Linked DNA regions of Homo sapiens. The protein of the gene in region 1 purifies or fractionates together with the protein of each later gene. This does not show direct contact. Each region holds a gene or a part of one and is shown in the gene's direction. Other genes may lie near its edges. The genes, in order: GJA10 and FBXO42.

What was found.
Region 2: the proteins of GJA10 (region 1) and FBXO42 purify together in Homo sapiens (affinity purification with mass spectrometry; one large-scale study listed by BioGRID and IntAct). This does not show direct contact.

Annotation. Positions count from the first base shown.
Region 1 is NC_000006.12:89,893,088-89,896,690, forward strand, and holds GJA10 (gap junction alpha-10 protein), read left to right. Parts: upstream 1-1,381; coding exon 1,382-3,013; 3' UTR 3,014-3,033; downstream 3,034-3,603. UniProt on the Homo sapiens protein: One gap junction consists of a cluster of closely packed pairs of transmembrane channels, the connexons, through which materials of low MW diffuse from one cell to a neighboring cell. Involved in tracer coupling between horizontal cells of the retina.
Region 2 is NC_000001.11:16,251,395-16,255,216, reverse strand, and holds part of FBXO42 (F-box only protein 42), read left to right. Parts: intron 1-1,485; coding exon 1,486-1,582; intron 1,583-2,035; coding exon of another isoform or gene 2,036-2,064; coding exon 2,065-2,121; intron 2,122-2,812; coding exon 2,813-2,929; intron 2,930-3,431; coding exon 3,432-3,822. UniProt on the Homo sapiens protein: Substrate-recognition component of some SCF (SKP1-CUL1-F-box protein)-type E3 ubiquitin ligase complex. Specifically recognizes p53/TP53, promoting its ubiquitination and degradation.

The DNA of each region.
Region 1 (3,603 bases):
GGCGTGATCTCAGCTCACTGCAATCTCTGCCCCCTGGGTTCAGGTGATTCTCCTGCCTCAGCCTCCTGAGTAGCTGGGATTACAGGCGCGTGCCACCACACCGGCTAGTTTTCCTATTTTTAGTAGAGACGGGATTTCACCATGTTGGCCAGGCTGATCTCGACCTCCTGACCTCAGGTGATCCACCCACCTCAGCCTCCCAAAGTGCTAGGATTACAGGCATGAGCCACCACGTCCAGCCTCATTATCTATTTTAACTTAATAATACTTTCCTATTTTTCCTCTGTATCTTTCTTATCTGGAAGTCTTCCATATCTTAGAAAGCTTTAACCTACTAAGTATTTTAACCTTATTGAACCTTGAAAAACATTAGTTTTTCAGGATAAACCAAGTAACCTGTTCATGTCAGCTATACCTGTATTGTTTCCCAGATCCTAAGCTTGCTAGAGAAGCAGTTTATATTCACTTTTCTTCTAAGTTAGCAAAAATTCCATGAAAACATGATGTTCCAGATGTGGCTTAATGGATGTAATTATGTGTTATTGCTGGTATTGTTTCTGTGTCTGCCTAATCTTTACTGCTACCCTGATATGAGCCAGTTCCTGAGGGTTTGACTGATTTGTATTTTCTTTACCTATACTTTGTCTTGCAGTGAAAGCCCTGGATAATATATCATGAGGATCTACTTTATTTTGCCTATTGATGGTTATTTTGGTGATAGGGTCAAGGAACAGAATTTTAAAGTGAAAAGACAATTCCATTGACTATTATATATTGACGCCTTGTGTGTGCGATGACCAACATGCTTTAGAAAGAGTCTCTATCTGCAAGGGGTGTACCTTTCCAGGAAGGGGAACACAACCATCACAAAACTCATTTAGGCACAGTCCCAGGTGATTAATATTAATAATAGTGTTGTGAGGATTCAGGAAAGGGAAAAATAACTACAACTTGGGATGGGTAGGGAACACTTCCTGAGGAATTGAGACTCCTTTACGATCATGTCAGATGTATGGTAAGTAGCGTATCTCATGTGGATAGAAAAATGAATACAATTGTGCAATTAGAATGAATTGTACAAATATGGAGACCTATTTGTATACTAGAATAACAGGCAGCTTTGTGGGGGAGAGTAAAAGAGAATAGGAAGAAGTAAACTGCTGAAATTGTGAGGGGTATTTAGTGTTTTTTCAAAAATTAATATATTTGGAAATGTCCTATTTTAAGCATGGGCTATAAATATTAGGGCTGGAAGATCCTTCATAATTTTGCTGACATACAAAAGAACCTGCTGTATTTTTGAGCTTGTGTCTATATATTACCACCATGGGTGCTATTAACCTCAGTGTTTTCTGTATATTTCAGACATTAGTCTTTAACCATGGGGGACTGGAACTTATTGGGTGGCATCCTAGAGGAAGTTCACTCCCACTCAACCATAGTGGGGAAAATCTGGCTGACCATCCTCTTCATCTTCCGAATGCTGGTACTTCGTGTGGCTGCTGAGGATGTCTGGGATGATGAACAGTCAGCATTTGCCTGCAACACCCGGCAGCCAGGTTGCAACAATATCTGTTATGATGATGCATTCCCTATCTCTTTGATCAGGTTCTGGGTTTTACAGATCATCTTTGTGTCTTCTCCTTCTTTGGTCTATATGGGCCATGCACTTTATAGGCTCAGGGCCTTTGAGAAAGACAGGCAGAGGAAAAAGTCACACCTTAGAGCCCAGATGGAGAATCCAGATCTTGACTTGGAGGAGCAGCAAAGAATAGATAGGGAACTGAGGAGGTTAGAGGAGCAGAAGAGGATCCATAAAGTCCCTCTGAAAGGATGTCTGCTGCGTACTTATGTCTTACACATCTTGACCAGATCTGTGCTGGAAGTAGGATTCATGATAGGCCAATATATTCTCTATGGGTTTCAAATGCACCCCCTTTACAAATGCACTCAACCTCCTTGCCCCAATGCGGTGGATTGCTTTGTATCCAGGCCCACTGAGAAGACAATTTTCATGCTTTTTATGCACAGCATTGCAGCCATTTCCTTGTTACTCAATATACTGGAAATATTTCATCTAGGCATCAGAAAAATTATGAGGACACTTTATAAGAAATCCAGCAGTGAGGGCATTGAGGATGAAACAGGCCCTCCATTCCATTTGAAGAAATATTCTGTGGCCCAGCAGTGTATGATTTGCTCTTCATTGCCTGAAAGAATCTCTCCACTTCAAGCTAACAATCAACAGCAAGTCATTCGAGTTAATGTGCCAAAGTCTAAAACCATGTGGCAAATCCCACAGCCAAGGCAACTTGAAGTAGACCCTTCCAATGGGAAAAAGGACTGGTCTGAGAAGGATCAGCATAGCGGACAGCTCCATGTTCACAGCCCGTGTCCCTGGGCTGGCAGTGCTGGAAATCAGCACCTGGGACAGCAATCAGACCATTCCTCATTTGGCCTGCAGAATACAATGTCTCAGTCCTGGCTAGGTACAACTACGGCTCCTAGAAACTGTCCATCCTTTGCAGTAGGAACCTGGGAGCAGTCCCAGGACCCAGAACCCTCAGGTGAGCCTCTCACAGATCTTCATAGTCACTGCAGAGACAGTGAAGGCAGCATGAGAGAGAGTGGGGTCTGGATAGACAGATCTCGCCCAGGCAGTCGCAAGGCCAGCTTTCTGTCCAGATTGTTGTCTGAAAAGCGACATCTGCACAGTGACTCAGGAAGCTCTGGTTCTCGGAATAGCTCCTGCTTGGATTTTCCTCACTGGGAAAACAGCCCCTCACCTCTGCCTTCAGTCACTGGGCACAGAACATCAATGGTAAGACAGGCAGCCCTACCGATCATGGAACTATCACAAGAGCTGTTCCATTCTGGATGCTTTCTTTTTCCTTTCTTTCTTCCTGGGGTGTGTATGTATGTTTGTGTTGACAGAGAGGCAGATGGAGGGGGAGATTATTTATGGAGAGATAAAATTATTCATTCGATACATTCAGTTAAATTCAATTCATAAAATAGACTTAGAAAAATCTTATTATATCAATCGCTCTTATAAGTGCTGGGCATGTAAATGGGTAAAATACAGTCTCTGACATCAAAGGACTCAGGATGTAGGAGTAAAATTTAGGCAGGTAAAATGTAAATATATCAAGTGTAAGGCGTCACGTTAGTGGGAATGAGTGAGCAAAGGAGGGAGTGATCATATGGATGGGTCAGGAAAAGTTCATAGTTGAAGTTACCTTGAGCTGAATCTTGAAAGATGTGGCAAGTTTTTCCAAAACCGGAAGGACTGGGGCACATGAAAGAAGCTGTCCTGGTAGAGGGAGCAGTGCAGGTAAAGCCTAAGAGTGAGACATAGCAGTGCTGTCTGAGGAGCTGTGTGTGGCTGGAGCACAGGGTGGTAGGAGGGTGCAGAGGGAGGGAAGGCTGGAGAAGTGGGCATGGAGGCCCTGTAGGGAAGCCATAGAGAACTGACGGAGGATGTGGAGCAGAGGAGGGACTGGATCAGAGTTGCAGTTTAGAAAGTCCTTCTGTCACAGTGTGGAAAACAGTCCAGAGGAGGGATCATTTGTAACTTGAGTTGCCCTCATCTCACTAAAAAAG
Region 2 (3,822 bases), on another chromosome or scaffold:
AATCATAGTTATATAGAATCTCTTTGACATATGGTTCTATTCAGTAGGATCAAATTCTGATGGAACCTCCACCTTGCCTGCTGTGCTGTGCCTGCAGAAGGCCAACTTTCGAGAACAGAATGCTTTTACTTATTCTACTTTATTACCCAGCTCTTGCCCTTTTGGGCTTTAGAGGAGAAGAGGGGGAGATTGACAGGACAAGTGGAAATGGTGGGCCCTCCAAATGTGATAGGTTGGTTGAGCCACATGTAAAGGGCATGAAAAGAAAGAAAGAAGGAAAGAAAAGAAAAAAACAAATGGGATGGGTTGTGGAATGGGTAGGAACAGGAAAACTGTGTCAGGCATGACATTTCTGTGAGGTCATTGTCCCTACCTCCTGTCCTGTCCACTTCTGGCCATACTGGACAGCTCAAGCCATAGTCAGGAGCCAGAGCATTCCATCTGTATCACTGTCTGATTCAGCGGTAGCAGCAGTTGTGGTCATTCCCCCTGTGCTCTGAAGTGGAAGTTGATGAGCTGTCAGCAGCAAGACCATCCCACACCTGTCCTCCCTTAGGGCATTTCCATCTTCATATTTTAAAACAGTTATGGAGAGAGATTATAGGAGCTACTCTCCCAATGAGAGAGTTTAGGATTTCAGATATTGGAACTATTATTCCTGTATTTTTGTGGGTGAATCAATGACCTTAAGTGACCATGAAAGAGAGACTGCCATCCAGGAGTCTGTCCTCGTCATGTTGGTCCCTTGAGGGTTAGAGATGCCAGTCTGTCCTTGATAAAACTGCAGCTTTCATTAGTCATTGTGCAATTACTTTTTGTAGCCAGAATCGATAAAGCTTTTAACTCCTGGACAATGATGAAGCTGCCTTTTGAATCGTTTTTTCTCTTCTTTGTGGTTTTTGCTTTTGAAAACTGTAGCTTAACCAGTGTCTATTTCCTGCTGTCACCAATTAACTATTTTTTAATCATCTGCTTTTACTTCAGTTAATAGATGGTTAAAAAAATAATCTCATTAGGCACTAGTGTCTGGCCGCAGACGTGGCTCAGATGAGGCCTCGTGGAAAGAGCAGAGGGAGGGTCTCAGGATGACTTCTAGGGAAAGTAGGGGAAGAAAGATACAGCCTAAGTGCTAAGTAGGAGCATAACACTTTGCTGCGCATCTTTATAAAGGTCCCTTCATTTTATATCAGCTCCTCAGACAGTAGTAACAGTATTTTCATTTTAGAGATAAAGTCAGAGTTAGAGAAAATTAAGTGACTTGTTCAGGCTACAGAGCTGGGATTCAGCAACATGGTCTCTTTCTGGTTCAGAAGCCCCTGAACTCTGAGTAGGGCATCTCTAAAACCTGCTCCAGCCCACACAGTCTGTGAAAGTGAAAATGGTGCAAGTTTGCCAGATGGGCCACAGGCATGTGGAACTCCCCAGCCACCATTATGGTCCCTGGGAGCTCCTAACTACCTTTATCCTTCTGTCCTTAATTCACAGGAGCAATGATGTCTGGGTCCTTGACCTTGAGCAGTGGGCGTGGTCCAAGCCGAACATCTCTGGCCCCAGTCCTCATCCTCGAGGTGGCCAATCTCAGGTGCTCAGGAATTAAAATAACTATTCAGCAAACACTGTAGCGTCTTTCAGTTAGGACGGGAGAGGGAGGAGGGAGTCAGGTAAGATGCCAATATGCACTAAGCCAAAGAAAATGTATCATTCTTTTTTACTGGTATTTATTTTTCAACTTCTAATGGGTCATATTATTTATAGTGGTTTTATATTATGCTCCTCCCCAAAGCATTTACTTTGCTGTGTCATTTCTCAAGAGAATCCTGCATTTTATGTGGTTGACATTCATGTTAATATTTGATCAACAAAGAATGTATCCTTTCAGGTGAATTATCAGTAATTTATTCACAGGGATCAGAATTGATATGTTTTTAGGAGAATGGAGAGGTTATGGTAACTAGAATATTCCCATTTGGGAGCTAGGTAGGCTATTCTCATATACCAGTGAAGCATAGAAAGTCAGAAACCTGTGTCTTTGTAGGTTTATTTTCAATGTCTTCCCCTCCTCAGATTGTCATAGATGATGCAACTATCTTAATCCTCGGAGGGTGTGGCGGTCCCAATGCTGTGAGTATTGCTTCTGTGGCATTCCCATGTGCATGCTACTAAGTGTTCAAAACCTGTTTCCCCTGTCTTCTTTTCTAGGAGTATACAAGACTATTTCCATGGCATTTTAATTTAAGGAATGCTTTTTGGGTATAGCCTTTGTATTTTCTGGCCTTTGTTTCTGCTTTTTTTTAGGGTTGTGGGGGGATCCTTTTAATCATAGATATTTGTCTCTTGAATATTCATATCTATATTCTTCCCATTCCTATTTCCTTTTTAGGCTATAAAGTTTACTGCTATCATATTTTCAAAGGGGAGAGGGCAGTGGAACAAAAAAGCAGGTTGATAACTGTCAGAGTTCACACAGTATTTAAGAAAGCAGATTCAGAAAGTTGTGGATATGTATTATTTATCCTCTCCTTCAATCCCCAATACATACACATAAAATTATGGGCAAGTGTCAAAACCACTCAGTTGATTCATGGGTCACAAGCACAATTCCATGTGCTAAGCCAGTGGTAATATATGAATGAATGAAAGCGTAAGTGGATGCATGCACAACTGAATAATTAACTGAGGATTTTGCTATCCTTCTGAAGAGTCCACATCCTTTCAAGACCAGACAGGAGAGCTTTGAGACTGCAACTCTGTGTGTGTGTGTTTTGGAACGCATATCACACCTGAGTCTTGTTATTGGTTTTTTCTCTTACAGCTATTCAAGGATGCTTGGTTGTTGCACATGCATTCTGGTCCTTGGGCCTGGCAGCCACTCAAGGTAGAAAATGAAGAGCATGGGGCCCCAGAACTGTGGTGCCATCCAGCTTGCCGGGTAAGCAGGGAGCTGACAGGCTAGCAGGAGGACAGGTCCTAAATTGTGGAAAACCACATTACTTTGTCAGGTTACAAAGAAATTTGTACAAAAATAGAAAACACCTTGGTGTCACAAAAGAGGTGAACATTAGCCATAGCTCCTTTGGCATTTCTCACTAAATGGGAAAACTTACAGGGGCCCTACTCATTCAGTAAGTCCCAACTTTAAGCATCTGTTTGTCTGTGAAACTTTCCCTTCTCCTTCTAACAAAAATTGATTGTTCCCTTCTCCCCACCCCTTCTGTATACATATCTCTAATGATAGCATATGTCACACAAAGCAGCGATTGTTCCCATGTCTGACTTCTAGCCTAGAGGGCAGACTACATCATTTTCATCTTCATATCTCAGGTACCTACAAAATGTCTGGCACATGACAGATGCTCATGATAAAATGTTTGACAGTTGAATGAACAATCAGAATCATAGAAGAGTGTGAGCACTGGTCCTTTGTCTTCCAGGTGGGACAGTGTGTGGTGGTCTTCAGCCAGGCTCCTAGTGGGAGAGCCCCACTCAGCCCCAGTTTGAACTCTCGCCCATCACCTATCAGTGCCACTCCTCCAGCTCTCGTTCCTGAAACCCGAGAGTACCGCTCTCAGTCTCCAGTAAGAAGCATGGATGAAGCTCCTTGTGTTAACGGCCGCTGGGGAACACTGAGACCCAGGGCTCAAAGGCAGACTCCTTCAGGTTCCCGGGAAGGGAGCCTTTCCCCAGCCAGAGGAGACGGCTCTCCTATCCTCAATGGTGGGAGTTTGTCTCCAGGAACGGCAGCTGTGGGTGGCTCTTCTTTGGACAGTCCTGTACAGGCCATATCTCCAAGTACTCCATCTGCTCCTGAAGGATACGACCTGA